Regions from separate parts of the Homo sapiens genome. Here region 2 is linked to region 1. The links come from fine-mapping of genetic effects on gene expression. Tissue or cell type: whole blood. Region 1 holds a variant in brackets; the other region holds the start of a gene. All regions are shown on one strand. Distances are between the middles of the regions.

What was found. PIP is the estimated chance that this variant, and not a neighbour inherited with it, causes the effect.
Region 2: DNHD1 starts here. The variant in region 1 is fine-mapped to the expression of DNHD1 in whole blood (TOPMed, PIP above 0.99).

The regions. Positions count from the first base shown.
Region 1 is chr11:6,467,398-6,475,499 of GRCh38, forward strand. It overlaps TRIM3 (tripartite motif containing 3), which reads right to left and starts at 6,544. Exons shown (of 12, transcript NM_033278.4): 1 at 6,394-6,544. RefSeq lists enhancers at 1,722-2,016, 5,205-6,144, 6,145-7,083 and a silencer at 6,441-6,670. The variant T/C (reference allele first, on the strand shown) is at 3,449.
Region 2 is chr11:6,493,880-6,501,969 of GRCh38, forward strand. DNHD1 (dynein heavy chain domain 1) reads left to right here and starts at 3,401. Exons shown (of 43, transcript NM_144666.3): 1 at 3,401-3,452; 2 at 3,706-3,788; 3 at 3,892-5,082. The coding sequence starts at 4,337.

The DNA of each region.
Region 1 (8,102 bases):
TCAATAAAAGGAAGAGGTGAGTTTGGGAAGATAGGTAGAGATGAGATCATGAAGGACCTTATAACCGCCATTAAGAATGTGATTTTGGCTGGGTGCAGTGGCTCATACCTGTAATACTAGCACTTTCAGAGGCCAAAGCAGGAAGATCGTTTGAGCCCAGGAATTGGAGATCAGCCTGGGCAACATAATGAGACCAATATCTACAAAAAAATTAAAAATCATCTAGGCATGGTGGCACACACCTGTAGTCCAGGCTACTTGGGAGGCTGAGGTGGGAGGATTGCTTGAGCCCAGGAGGTCGAGGCTGCAGTGAGCCATAATCGTGCCACTGCACTCTAGCCTGGCATGAGACAAAGTTGAGATTCTGTCTCAAAAAAAAAAAGTGATTTTATCCTAAGTTGGAGGGGGGGATGATGTGGTTTATAAATAAGTGAAAATAAATTAGAAAGCTACTCTGGCAAGCTGTGAGAATTGAAGACAAAGAGAAGCCAGAGTGGAATCAGAGAAAACAGTTAGGAAGCTACCAAAGTTCTTTGGGTAAGATAATGTAGGGTATCATCTGAGCTACAAGCAAAAAGCTGGACTGATTTGAGAAATATTCATTGGCCGAGCAAGGTGGCTCACATCTGTAATCCCAGCACTTCGAGAGGCTGAGGAAGGAGGTTCACTTGAGCTCAGGAGTTCGAGATCAGTCTGGGCAACATAATGAGACCCCATCTCTATAAAAATAAAATAAATAATAAAAGAGAAATCCAAAGGACATCAAGATGAACTGGGTGTGAGAGGGATGTCAATTATGACTTAGCTTTCTCATTTTAGCAAGTGATGGGCCATGAATAGAGACAGTGAAAGCTGAGGTGGAGCTGATTTGGGGCATTCTGTTCTATGTATGCTAAGTACAATGTGTCTCTCTGATGTCCAGGTAGAGCTGTCAAGTAAGAAACAGAATACAGGAGCTCAAGAGAAAAGTCTGGACTGGTTATTGATTTGGGATCACTAGCATATAAATGGCACTTTCAGCAATGAGAAGACATGAGCCCACCTAGGGACAGAGGGCAGACAGTGATAAGAAAAGGGCCTGGCACAAGAGAGGGGAGCCAGCAAAGGTGACTCTGAGAAAGAGAACCCAGAGAAATGGTAGGAAAACCAAAAGAATGTGAAACCAAAGAAATCAACAGAACAGTGCAAGAAAAAGAAGGGGTGAAGTAAGAAACGGACTGAAGAGTGCCCACTAGATTTGGCTGTGGTGGGGTGGCAGGGGCAGAAGCCACGTCAGAGTGACTGAAGAGTAAATGGGAGATGAAGTTAACACAGCAGATGTAGACAATACATGGCAGGGATTTGGTCATGAAGGGTGGCAGAACAACAGCTGGATTACTCCAAAATAGGCAATGAATAGGACCAGGTCACCATTGTCTGTGCTGTTGGATGCATTATGAGCCTTTTTCTAAAGACTGTGAATGAATGAATGAATGAATGAATGAATGAATGCAGGAGCGAGTCTAGATTTGGGGAGGGATAGAAGGGCTGAGTTGCTGTGCCTTATGTTTGTGTAAGGGTGGGCCTGGGTAGAGTGTGAAGGGCATGCCTGAAAGTATCCTCTGCTGATGTAGACACTGGCATCCTGATGTTCTCTCTACAGTTGTAATGGGTTCTGGAGTCTGAAGACTTAATACCAGGAAAACATAGCAGGAGGGAGGACAGATTGAAGGTTGGCGGAAGGACCAGGAGGCGGGAGGCAAGCTGAAGCCTCTGTCTGGTGAAGGGAAAGGCTGGGAGGAAGAGTGGGAGTGGTCTGCTGGGTCCTGCTGGGGTAGCTGGATGCCAGGCTCCACCTCTCTCCAAGCCTAGGGGCTCTCCCAGACTGTCACACAGGGGCGGGGATTGGGCTATGTCCAAGGACCAATAGCTCCTCCCCCACTCCTCCCCTTCCTGCTTCAGTTCCCCTCCCAGACTTACTGGGCATGCAGCCGCTGAGGCCATACCCCTGCCTGAATCTGAGATTCTCTTCCTCCCGTGGGGTCCTAGCTCTTCCATCCCACTGTGCTCTAGAGATTTGCCCCCAAGATCCTATAGGTGGTGGTTCAAGTGAACTGTTTATCACAGCAGACACTTATAAGGCCTTGGTCTCAGAGCCAGACTTTACTCTCCTTTCTCATACTGCCTTCTGCTATCCCTGTATTGGTTATTCCCACCATACTTTATGGCTTAGTTCTCAAGGCACCTCACTCCCTCATTCAGCATTCACTTGACACTGCTGCTAGGCCTGGGGACACAAAGACAAATAGTCACAGCTCAGCCTTCATGGATTCCACAATCTAATAAATAGATTACTGCAATGTAAAGTGGTGAAGACCATGATGAGGAAGCACCAATTGCTCCAGGAGTACAAAGGTTACCTAACCTAGATCTGGAGCAGGGGTGGGTCCAGAGGTTGGAGGCCAACCTTTCTCCTAAAGAAAGTAACTTTAGTAACTCCTAAAGAAAGTAACGTTCAAGCTGAGGATGAGTTACAGAGAGTATGGTGCCTTTTGCATCAGGAGGCTGAATCAGACACTGTGATGGGAGGGCTAAGAAACAAGATGGAGAGGTAGGCAAAAGATATATCATGCAATGCCTTGTTGGTCTTATTAAGGAGTTTAGACTTTACGCTTACCTGCTAGGGGATGAAGGATTTATCCAAAAAGCAAAGGAAAACTTTGGTAGTGGTGAGGGCTATTAAGTATAGAGTGACAAAAGTACATTTTTGGCTGCTATGTGGAAAATAGTTTAAAGGGCAAGGACGGAAAATTAAGAAACTGCCTTGATTAGGAGAATAGCAAAGACAGGCCAAGATAAATCAATTTTGCAGGGGGATATCAACTGAACTTGGTGGCTGGGTATTTACATGTGAAGAGTTAGGGGAGAAGAAGGAATTAACAGATGATTCTTTGGAAACTCTCAAAGAAGAGCAGTTTGGATGAGAGGGTGATAAGTTTGGTGTTTATCTTTTAAGGTTTTTTCAGTTTTGTTTTTGTTTTTTAAGAGACAGGGTCTTACTCTGTTGTCCAGGCTGGAATGTGGTGTTATGATCATAGCTCACTGTAGCCTCAAACTCCTGGGCTCAACTAATCCTCCTGCCTTGGCCTGCCAAAGCGTGGGGGTTGCAGGCATGAGCCACAGCACCCAGCTAGAGTTCACTGTTTAATGTGATGAATCTGAGGTGCCTATGGGATGTAATTCAAGTGGAGAGGTCCAGTTGGCAGTTGGAAAGATACGCTGAAGCCTAAGAGAGAGGTCTGGCCTGGAGACATGAATGTGGATGTTGGTGCAGAGATGGTTCCTGAAGCCATGGGCGTGGATGACATTACCCTGAGAGGGTAAAGAGAGAAAGGAGGGTCTATCACCAAGTCCCAAGGAACCTCAATATTTAAGAGATAGGCCCAGGAAGCAGAGTCTGCAAAGAAGA[T/C]TGAGAAGGCACAACCAGAGAAGCAAGAGAATCAGGAAACAGATGTCATGAATGCCAAGGGAGAAGAGAACTTCATGAACAAGGGAGTGAAATGCTGCAGAGGTCCCATTATTTAAGCCCCAAAGAGGCTTTCATTAACCTCAGAGCATGTGGTTTTCAGGGGATGGAGGACAGGAAGCCAGATGCAGGGAGTCAAGCAAGAAGCTGATTGTGAACAAATGAAGACAGCCAGTGCTGACTCCACTAGATCCTGGACATCTGCAAAGGATGTGTTTCAAGGCTTTTCAGTTTCTCCAAATTCTCAAATAGCATTAATTTTCCCCAGGACTTCCTCCTACAATCTCACAGGATTCCCAGTACACATGAGTTACACAGTTGTGAATGGAGGTAACCAAGGCATTGTTGAAAATGGATGCGAGAGGTCAGCTAGGCTCATTTGCTTGCTAAAATAACTCACGTCTACTCACTAGCTTCCAGGTTTATCTGATCATTTGAGACCTCAAAAAAATGACAAATGACTGCAGGTTACAGTCTTTGGGCTTTCTCTGAAACAAATGAAGCCTTGGATGAGGCAAAGTCCTTAAAGCCAATGAATCCTTTAAATAAGATTAGCAGGGAAGGAAAGCAATGAAATTCATGGCCATCTCCCCCAACATTGCCAGACTGAGTAAAGTGAATGAACCATTCAATCAAACTTCTCTGGGCACACTGTGGGCCAGGTCCTTCAGCTGTGAAATAGAGACACAAAGCTGAATCAGACACACTCCCTGTCTTTCACAAGTTTTTAGACTAATGTGAGAAACAGAAATGGAAACACGTAACTACAATGTGATAAGTACCATGATATTGACATGTTCAAATTGCTACAGCAGCAAACTGGAGGAAGTACCTAACTCTGAGGATGGTACAGAATAAAGAAGGCTTCCAGAGGAAGGGGTATTTGAGCTGGGTCTTGAGAGACAAATAGGACATTGATACGTACATTGGGAAAACAGTGAGTAAAGAAACAGAAACATGAGAAACTAAGAAATATGGAACAGATGGACAAGATTGCAAATCTCCAAAAGGCAGAGGTTATACATGATGCTTTTACATCCTAAAAGCATAAAAATAAATATGCTAAAAATAAATAAATCTAAATAAATAAATAAATAAAAGGCACCACCACTCACCCACCCACACAAGCGAGAACCCTGGTAGTCTTCTCAATTACACCTTTTCTTTCACCTTTCAGATACAAGCTATGACTACATCCTCAATTCTGCCTCTGAAATTTGGCTAGGTTTAAAAAGTTAGGAGATCTAGGATCTAGTCCTAATGCTGTAACTAACTCCACTAACACAAGGTGAAACTCTAGGTAAGTTCCAACCCCATTCCCTTATTTGTAAATTGGGAGAAGAGGGATGTTTTCTCAAAATCTGAGATTCCCAAGGTTCCCTCTCAAGCCAAGGGCTTCCACAGATTGTACCATGAGCCCATGATTAAATCCCATCTTGTACTACCTCGATGATTTGACTTCTAGTTTCCACTGTTAGGCTAAATGTGTTAGAGGATGGTCTTAGTTGCCTCCCCTCCACACTCCCCCTGCCCCCTCGCCCCCGTAAATAAATGTTTGCTGAGTTTTAAGTCACCTGTGACACTCTATGAACGCTCTCTATTCTAACCATATGGTTTTTCTGCTTTTCTGAACCTGGGCTATACTATCCCAACGATGGACTCTTTGCTCAAGTTCTCTCGGCAAGAATGCCATTGTCTCCTAAGTGGCTGTGGCAGTACCTGGCACACAGGAAGTACTCAGTATATGTTGGTTACAGGAGAGCTCTGTTTAAATCTCTGCAGTTCCCTTTCATCAGAGAGAGATGCAAAAGTAATGGCAGTAACAAGACAAGTGAATAAAGTCCCAAGAAGAGAGACCTCTGCTTAATATAAGGAAGCTTTTCCACAGCAGAAAGTAGCAAGTGCTCTGTCACTGGAGGCATACAAGCCCAAGGAGGCAGGGCTACTGTCAGGCCTGCAGCTCTGATTCCAATTCTGCAGCAAATCATCCCCTGCTTAGGGGATGAATGGGCACCAGTGAGCTAGACAGACTGGCCAAGGGAGACCTGTGATGTTTTCTGCACCTGCTGTGACCTCCCAGATGTGATCTTCCTGCTAGGGCCAGTCCTGAGTTTCTGTTGTCCACATCAGAGAACCCCCACACCAAGAACAAGCCCAGGGCCTGCCCTCAGTCGAACTGACCTCCCTGGGGTGCAGCCTGCCCCTCCAACCTGCAACCATCTGTCCCTGCAGGTTTGCAGCCCAGGATCTGAAGCCAATTGCAGAAGGGAGGAGGTCAGAACCAGGGAGGGGCCTGGGGTCCTCCAGGCAGGGCTCAGGCTACAGGAGAACCAGAGGGGTCCTTTCCTACAAAAAAACAGCCTCCACATGAGGCTTTCTGTCCACAGAGCAGTGCATGGGGAGGAAAGGGTGTCCTCCATCCTGACTGGTGGGCCTGTGGGTACCAGAGGATGGAAGGGGCGGGGGGTGGGGTAGGGTGGGGGTGGGGGAGCAAGGGGTGGAGGTGTCTGCACCAGGGAGAAAAGAGCCCTTCAGACAAGATGGGCCACAATATTCCAGAGTCCCACTCAGCACGCACCACCACCACCACCCTCGGCCGCAGCGTTCAGCACCCTCCGCCAACACACACAAGCTCCCAAACCCCGCGCTCCCCTAAGGAACCATCACCCATCCACCCGCGCCTCCCCGCCTCAAAACAGGGACCTCACGTGAGCAGCCACAGCCCGAAGAATCCCCCTGCTGCTCTCACGGACATGGACACGCCTCACGTGGGCAGAGAGAGGCACAGCTTTTGAAAATCATCTGTGCCCCCACCCACAGACGCTCCGACCCAGACCCGGGCTGACAGGAATACAAACGCACCCTTGGGGCCCGCCCGTCGCACTCACCGCGTTGGAACAGGATGCGAGGGCAAAGCTCGGACTGCGGCCACTCTGAAGGGCCCGCGGCGCTGCTACTGCTGCCAGCGCCCGTCCGCCCGGCCCTGCCCGCGCCTCCGCCTGTCCCCGCGCCGGCGCCGCCGCCGGACTAGCCGCACAGGCCGGAGGGAGGGGCCGGGGCGGGGCTGCGGACCGGCCGGGGGAGGGGGTGACTCCAGTAGGGAAGACCCACCCACGCCCCGCCCGCCGCCGCGGAGGCCCCGCCCACCCCGCCTGCCCACCCCTACCGCACCCGCACGCCCCCCCGCCAACGCCTCCACCTCCTGCGGACGCTGCCTCCTTGGTGCTGCTAGGGAGCCGGCGGGCCGGCGAGCCGGATCCCGGATCTCGGATCCCGGATCTCCGCCAGCTGCCTCCGGCTCCGGGAAGGGCGGTGTAGTCGGTCTCAGGGATTGAGATGAGACTCCGTCAAGAAAAGGCAGCTGGGGCAGCAGGGATTTCGGACTCTGGGAGCCTGTCTGGGCCGCCTGCCTCCTGGAGGCGCCCTTTCCGGCTTCCTTGGAGTGCTCCTATGGAATATGCTAGTCTATCGGCTGACCAGGAAGACGTAGAAACCGTCTGTACCTCAGCACGATCTCTGGGCGGCAGAAGGGCAGTACCCAGAACTCTGGGAGAAGGAGTTAAGGGGTAGAAAGGTGGGGGATTTGATTAGGCTTTGGGCGCTTCAGGAGCCCCCTCCTGAGGAAATTCTGGTTCAGACCATCCAGCGACTCCCTTCCTCACACCAAAGACACTGGACAATTCTCAGAATCATCGCCTTGTGCAAAAAGCAGCCCCAAGTGGAAAATAATTGTAACAGTTTACAGGGACTGAGTGGTTATTATGTGCCGACACAGAACTAGCCACTTTACATATATTATTTAATAGTCAGTAGGTAGCATCTTTTATTAGCCCAATTTTACAATGGGAAAAAATAGGGATCTTGCTCCCCAGACGTTAGCCCTCATCACTCAGCTAGAAAGTGGCAGAACCTGGAGTTGAGCCCTGTTTTTAGGCCCTACAACCAGCATTTGGAGACTCGGTACCTTTCATGTTGAAAAATCCCCAGTGGCCCATTAAGTGGCAGCTCATATAAGGACCACCTTCCCTGCCCCAAAAATCAAGCTCTAGTCAGATGATTGCAGGCTGATCAAAGCCCAGAAGACTGTCTGGGAGCTGCAGTATCCATGACAAAGGGCAAAGTCATGCCTGTGAGGATCCCTGCACTATGGGAATCTGCTGAGTGGGTCTTCCCCTTCCTCCAGCCTTCCAGAGGTGGGGAAAATCCTGAAAAATTCTGGTTTCCTTGGCCAAAGGGCATACAGGTGATGACACCTAGCCCTGACTAAACCAAAGTGCTGTTAGGGATCTTTCTTGTGACCTCTCCACAAGGTTCAGATTTAGGCTCAACACCTGGGTGCAGCAGGAGCTTTGGGAACCGCCTCAACCTCTTATCCACCTGAGTTCAGCACATAGCACAAGATGCTCCAGTGCTTGTGAAGGAAACCCAGACGGGGATCATGCTTGCAGTTTTGGGCTGGGGCTACTATGCTACCCAAGATGAGGGAACTGGAGTCTAGATGACACTATCTTAAGCCTCAGAGGACTACTTTTCTCAACTCTATACTTCTCCCATGCAGTCAAATTTCTGCTTAAAACACTTCTCAGCTCCTTCTCCA
Region 2 (8,090 bases), 26 kb after region 1:
GGAGAAGGCAGAACAACTGAAGGCTACCGTGGTAGCCTCAGAGTACTTATATTTGGATGGTTATGTGAGAGAAAAAAATAAACTATCATGTTTAAGCCATGATATTTTGGGTCTTTTTATTACAGCATTTGTGTGGTAGGTAGAAGTTTTAGATCAGGGGTCCCCAACCCCCGGGCCACAGACTGGTACCAGTCATGGCCTGTTAGGAACCAGGCTACACAGCAGGAGGTGAGTGGTGGGTGAGCAGGTGAAGCTTCATCTGTATTTACAGCCACTCTCCATCGCTCACATTACTACCTGAGCTCTGCCTCTTGTCAGATCATTGGTGGCATTAGATTCTCATAGGAGCATGAACCCTATTGTGAATAGCACATGCTAGGTGGCATGCTCCTTATGAGAATCTAATGTCTGATGATCTGTCACTGTCTCCCATCACCCCCAGATCGGATTGTCTAGTTGCAGGAAAACAAGCTCAGGGCTCCCACTGATTCTACATTATGGTGAGTTGTATAATTATTATATATTACAATGTGATAGTAAAATAAGTAAAGCTCACAATAAATGTAATGCATTTGAATCATCCTGAAACCGTTAACCCCTCCCCTGGTCCGTGGAAAAATTGTCTTCCACTACACTGGTCCATGGTGCCAAAAAGGTTGGGGACCACTGTCTCTGAGATTTCCTGCTCTCTAGTATATATCTCCCTAGTATACGCTGCATATTCCATGGGACTGTGAATGTGACAAATTTTACTTATGTGAGAAGGTTATAATATATGGCATAGTTGACTGTAAGAGCGATTGTCTGGGTGGGCCTGATCTAGTCACATGAGTCACATGAGCCCTTTAAAAGCAGAGTGTTTTCTTTATGGTTGCAGAAGGGGACATCAGAAAAGTGTGAAGCATGAGAAGGGTTAGAGGCACTGTTGTTGGCTTGAAAATGGAGGAACCACATGTCAAGGAAGACAGGTGGCCTCTAGGACCTGAGAGTGGCTCCTGGCTAATGGCCATGAAGAAAACAGGGACATCAGTCTTAGAACTGCAAGAAACTGAATCTTGCCAACAACAATAATAGCTTGGAAGTGGATCCCCCCACACCCCCCACCCCCTAGAGCCACCAGATGAGTAGCCCCGTCAACATGTTGACTTCAGGCTTATGATACCCTGAGCAAAGAATCCAGTAAAGTCATGCTGGACATCTGATCTACAGAACTGTGAGGTACTACATAGGTGTTGTTTTTAAGCTGCTTAGTTTGTAATAACTTGTTATGCAGCTCCAGAAAACTTGCGCGTTAGTGGGGGTTCTCCAGAGAAACAGAACTGATAGGCTGAGAAGTCCCACAATCTGCTGTCTACAAACTAGAGAACCAGGAAATCTGGTGGTGGAATTCAATCCAAGTTTGAAGGCCTGAGAACCAGGAGCACTGATGTCCATGGACAGAAGATGAATGTCTCAGCTAAAACAGCAAGTCCACCAGCTGCCTGTTTAAATTCTGTTTAGGCAACAGATTGTACAATGCCCATCCACATTGGTGAGGATGATCTTTACTTAGTCTACCTATTCAAATACTAATCTCTTCCAGGAATACCCTCAAAGACACACCCAGAAATAATGCTTTACCAGCTATCTGAGCATCCCTTAGCTCCGTCAAATTGACAAATAAAATTAACCATCACAGCCGGGCATAATAGCTCGCGCCTGTAATCCCAGCACTTTAGGGGTGAGGTGGGAGGATTGCTAGAGGCCAGAGGCTCGAGACCAGCCTGGGCAACATAGTGAGACCCTGTCTCTACAAAAAAATAAATAAATAACAGTCATAACTTGTGTATCTCCTAACTGATACACAAGCAGACAGCACAGCTTGTATGTAGTCTGTGAGGTGGGGGTATGGCTGGTGTGATTCAGGCACAGCAGTAGTAGAGTGTGAATGTGAAGAGAGAAGCCTACAGAGGTAGCAGGCAGTTATCAGCAATTTGTAGGCCATGATAGGACTTTGGCCTTCAGCTGAAGGAATTAGATGAGGGGGCATTAGTGAGCTATGAGCAGAGGAGTTATAGGATCTGCCTATATTTGAAAAGGATCACTGGCTGCTCTAAAAAGAATGGATTGTAGGGGCAATGGTGAGAAGCATGAGAAGGATCTGAGGCAAGGAGAACAGTTCAAAGGCTGTGGAAAAACCCAGGTGAGAAATGATAGCAGCTTAGACCAAGGTTGTAGTACTTAAGATGGTGGGAAATAGTTGGATTCTGGATATATTCTGAAGGCACAACCAGCAGAATTTCCTGAAGGATTACTTATGGAGGGAGGGGGAGAGAGAGAAAGAGAAAGGGAAAAAGAAGAGGGAAAGAGAAAGAAGGGGTTTGGAAGAGGTCTCAAAGCTGACTCCAAGGTTTTGGTGTGAGAAACCAGAAAGAATGGATTTGCCATTGACTGAGGTGGGAAAGACAGTGAAAGGAGCAGCATTTCTTTGGTGGGGAAAGGGTGGTTAGGAGCCTGCTTTTGGACATTTTAAGTTTGAGATACCTATAAGCTCTCCAGGTGGAGACATTAAGTAGGCAGTTGGATATACTAATCTGATTTCAGAGGAGAGGTGGGCTGAATTTCTTTTTTTATTTTAATCATCAACTTTTTTTTTTTTTTTTTTTTTTTTGAGATAGAGTCTCCCTCTGTCGCCCAGGCTGGAGTGCAGTGGCGCGATCTCTGCTCACTGCAAGCTCCGCCTCCTGGGTTCACGCCATTCTCCTGCCTCAGCCTCCCCAGTAGCTGGGACTACAGGCGCCCACCGCCACGCTCGGCTAATTTTTTTGTATTTTTAGTAGAGACAGGGTTTCACCGTGTTAGCCAGGATGGTCTCGATCTCCTGACCTCGTGATCCACCCGCCTCGGCCTCTCAAAATGCTGGGATTACAGGCATGAGCCACCGCGCCCGGCCTCATTCAACTTAATTTTTAAAAATTAGCCCCTCCATAAGCCCTTCCCCAAAAAATCCCCCTCCCCCCGTGCCAAATAGATGTTGAGCTCCTTGAGATCAAGGATTTTGTTTTATTCGGGCTTCTTTTGGGGAGGTGGGATAGGGTAGATGGATACGTTGGGGGTGGGGATGGGGGAGTACCAAAGACATACCAAAGACCTGGCACTAGTTTAGATACTCAGCGAATGGATATAAACACCTGCTTACGACACCCTCTGGATTGCTAGTCTCCCGAGTCAACCGTACTGCACGTGCAGTTCAGACCCCGCCTGGTCCTCTACAGGTCCCTGTCCCAGGCAAGCCTTAGCCCACAGGTTGAACCTAGTTCTGCCCCTCCAGGCTTGGGCTCTGCCCTCTCGGCCCCGCCCATATCGGACCCTGGCCCCTCCTCTTTCTGGCTCCCCCGGATGCTCCTGGCAAAGACTCGGTCCTTCTGGAATCTTGTAACGGTTCTAACAGCTGGGTGCGGGTGGAGCTGCGGGTGAGTCCTCGGCTCCGGATCCATTTCTCTTTGTTCCCTAGGACCCCCTCCCACAGAGTCCGCCTCCTCTTCCCCGCTCTCCCAGCCCCCTCCTTTGCCTGTTAACGTCTTCCCCTACCTGCATCCTGACCATCATTTGCTGTGCCTGCTCCTCGGCTTTCTGTCTTCACGACCTCCTTAGGCTGTGGGCGAAGACGTCATGGGACTGGGGCTCTGCTGCCTTCGAGTGACGACCTGTTAACCCGTTTTTCAGGCGATCGCCAGCTCGAGTGCAGATTCCTTGCTGTGACCGAGGTTCAGAGTGAGCTCTGTCGGTGTGTCAGTTTGCCTCTTCAGGTGATTGCACGTCTGTGTGCGAGTCTCTCCGTGTATGGGTGGCTATGATTAGGGTGAGCCTCAGACTGGAACTCAAGTCTAAGTTCATTCACTGCTCCAGCAGGCACTCTTCAATGAAACCTCATCAGCAGATCGGGCTCTCTTCCCTTGCCTTGCCTCCTAACCCCCCTAGGCCAGGTGAGGGGGACAGGGTACTGGGAGGTAAGAAGGAACTCTTCTGCAAGGAGGGCTCTCACGTCTGTCTTAGGCCTGCTCCTTACCAGAGTCTTTGGGGAAGCAGTAGGGAGGGCCTGAGGGTCTCAGGAAAGGCTCTCTGCTGGTCTGGCTCTGCTCTGTAGCTCCATCTATTTCCCTGTCCCAGGTCCTTTCTTCCTCCTAACCCCATTGACTCTGACCATCCCCTGCCCAGAGCCTGAGGTCCCTTCTCTGGCCCCTCTGCTGGGCTGGCCCATGCAGGTGAGGCCCCGCATCTGGCATCCTGGAACTGGCAGTTGGAGCCTGAGCTATGGGCAAGGTCACTTCGACAGCAGTTGAATGCCCAGCTCCTCATGGTCCCGGAGGAGAGGAGGGTAGGTTTGTCTTCTGATGAGACATCATCTGATTCCCTTAAGTCTTGGCACTCCATATGTGTCTTGGACAGCAAAGAACAGCCCTTGGCCTGCCAGCAGAAACAGAGGCAGTTCGTGAAGCCAGTGACTGAGTCAGAGCAGCCCACAGTGCTGGAACTCCTGCTAGCTGAGCTCCGAACTCTGTTCTCAGCTGTGTTGCAGGACAGTAGCCCTGCAGCTTGGCGCTATCTTCATGCAGTACTGGGTCTACTGCCTCCATATCGTGAGTTGCTAGTTGGCCACCTTGATTTGCTGCCCTTCCTGGAGCAGCTGTACTGCTGGGCACCCTGGGTCCAAACCCACCTCCATCTGGACCTGCTAGGTGCCATTGTCCAGGCCTTTCCTCCAGACAGCTCTTTGTTAGACAGTGCTTCCCATGCTGACTGCTGTCCCCAGAAGCGGAGGCTCCATCACAGGCCCCCATGCCCAGCTTGCCCTTTTGTGCAGGCCCAGTGGAGCAGGCAGCAAGTAAAGGAGGAGCTGGCCACCTGGCTGCGACCATTGACACTGCCTGAGCTACAGCGCTGCCTGGGCATTGTTGGTGCTCAGGTGGCCCTAGAAGAGGCTGTGTGGCTGGATGGACTTAGTCTCCTTCCCTTGGCACTGGCAGCGGACATCCCTGTACGGTATGAAAGCAGTGACACTGACAATGCAGAGGTGGAGCCTGTTGGAAGAAAAGAGACCAGGTAAGTGAGGGACTCAGTCTAGGGCTTGAGCAGAGGAGAAAAAGTTGCTGTTTTATGGGTGCCTCTGGGGTCACTTGGAAGTTTAGATCCAGCTCTCTGTTTATCACAGGGATTAGCCCAACTCCACACAAAGCTAGTGTGAGGCTACTTTCCTCTTCCTTTTTCTCTGCAAAATAAACCCAGTGGTGTTAGTCTTAATCCCCATAGAGAAATACAGAAATTAATGAAAATCAGAAGTCAGCTATGAGGCAGCCAAAGCTTTAGAATAACAGCTTGACTTTTCAGTTTCCAGGTTTTTTTCTTAGATGATGTCAGAAGTCTCCTTAATTATTTTTCTATAATTCATTCATAATCACTGAACATTGCCTGGGCCTACTGTGAGTTGATTCCTGGATGTTGGGTCTTTCCCTCAAGGTACCCCTGGGGAATGTGTGTCCGAGTGTCCTTCCCACATGTCTATGTGACTTAAACCGGCTCCAAGGCAGAGTGGAGTTGGCAGCACTACTGGATAGAATTTCATTTTGACCCTTCCAGAGTCTTCTTCTTGCCCTGCCAGTGTGGGCACTCTGGCCCCTTGAGTGATATATTTTTCTTTTGTTTCTTTCTTTCTTTCTTTCCTTTTTTGAGATAGAGTCTCACTCTGTCGCCCAGGCTGGAGTGCAACGGCATGGTCTCGGTTCACCGCAACCTCCGCCTCCCGGGTTCAAGTGATTCTCCTGCCTCAGCCTCCTGAGTAGCTGGGACTACAGGCACGTGCCACCATACTCAGCTAATTTTTATATTTTTAGTAGAGACGGAGTTTCACTATGTTGGCCAGGCTGGTCTCGAATTCCTGACCTCATGATCCGCCCACCTCTGCCTCCCAAAGTGCTGGGATTACAGGCGTGAGTCACTGCGCCCGGCCCTATTGTTTTCTTTTTTAAAATATCTGGCTATCAGAGCTCTCTACAGGATTTCAGAATGCTTACAGAGACCTTCTCTTCTCAGCGTTCTCTAACTTTCGATTTTTTTTTTTTTTTCTGAAACAGAGTCTCACTCTGTCGCCCAGGCTAGAGTGCAGTGGCCTGACCTTGGCTCACTGCAACCTCTGCCTCACAGGTTCAAGCGATTCTTTTGCCTCAGCCTCCCGAGTAGCTGGGATTACAGGCTCATGCCACCACGCTCAGCTGATTTTTGTATTTTCAGTAGAGACAGTGTTTCGCCATGTTGACCAGGCTAGGTTTCCAACTCCTGGTCTCAAGTGATCTGCTCACCTCGGCCTCCCAAAATGCTGGGATTACAGGCATAAGCCACCGTGCCCAAGAGAGTTTTTTAACTTTAGTTTTGGAATTCTCCTTGTCCTCTGGCCTCATTTTCTAGACAATGCTTTGCAGCTGTCTGTGGCACATTTACTGTTCGGGAAGAAGGCTAGTTTTACCTTTAATTAAGGTTGGCTTCCTCAGTTTTTGCTGTAAGTTTATGGCTGGGTCAAGTCTTTCCATTAAAGCCTAATGTTAGATAGATAGGCAGGCTCCTGGGGCCCTAATGGGAGGTGGCCAATGCCATAAATTTATGGTGGCCCTATTGGAATCTTTTCCTTTTTCAAAGAGCTGCCCTGTGCCTTGAGTACAAGTTTCCTTTCCTGGGAGAACTTGACTGAATTGGCATGGGCTGAGATGTTGGGAAGGGATCAAGTTCTTTGCCCTCCCTTTGAACCTGGCAGTAAACCTCTGAGGTCTAGCTAATATGGCTTAATTTGCATTACGTTCTCCCGGAGTGGTTTGCCAGGCATTCATTCATTCAATAAGTGTTGGATAGCTACATTTATTAGGATCTGCAAGATGCTAGGGATACAGAAGTGAATGAGACAGACTCAATCCCTTCACTTGAGGTATTACAGTTTAGTTAGGGAGATATAGTTAAGTTGATAACAAGTAAAATATAATTACAAATTGTAATAAGTGCTATAAAACAAAAGAATACTGTCTTTTGCCTGGCTGCTTCTCTGCAGGTGGGAGAGAGAGAGAGAGGGAGTGTAGTTAGGGGGAAAGCATGTGGGGGGAGTGTTCAAGTCTAGATTAGATTAACAAAAACATCAAACAGAGTTTCAAGGAGGAGGGAGCAGTCAGTAGTATTACATGTTAAATGAGACAAGTAAGAAGAATGAAAATGTTCATTGGATGTAGTAACAAGGAAGAGGTTAAGTTTTGTGGGGAGGAAGCTAGATTGTGGTGCATTGAGGAGTGAATGGAAGATGAAGTGGAAATCGCATTTTACGATTTTTTTTGTGAAGCTTAGCTTGAAGGGAAAAGACAAATAGCAGGGCAGCAGCTTGAAAGAATTTTGGTGTCTGGGTAGGGATTTTTTTTTTTTTTTTGATAGAGAGATGTTTATATCCCTTAACACAGTGCTTGAGAAGTAGGTGCTCAATAAATATTCGTAGACTAAATGAATAAATAGACTAAGGTAAGAAGAAGAGTAGATTAAAAATATATCATAGAGAATAAGGGGTCCAGAGCACTGATGGAGGAATTAATCTTACAGAGAAGAAAGGATACCTCTTCCTCTGAAATCGGGGGACAGATAAGTGTGTGGGGGAAGGCAACTGAAGTTGAGGGAATTGGCTAATGGCTGAAAACTTCAGCTTTCTCCAGGCAGAGAAGGAGACAGAGAATGGGATGGAACTGGGAGCTCAGCAGGGCTTGCATGGGGTTAGGGATAGCAGTTTGAGAGGCCTGAAAGAGGTAGCTGTCTGAGGACTTGTGTGAAGACATCAGGCAGAATGAGCCCACAGCTGATTGGACACCAGGAACCCGTAGAGGAGCAAATGTCCTTGGTTTTGCGATCTTCTGAATATACTATATAATATAGGACTTTGCTGAGAAAATGAACCTATAAGAGCAATTATACCATTTAAGATGTCCTGATCCAACACAACAGTTCATCAAGGACATATGTATAAAGGTTATAAACCATATTGTTGATATGAATTCTAGAATAGGATTGCACTGTTATCCCTGGGGAAACTT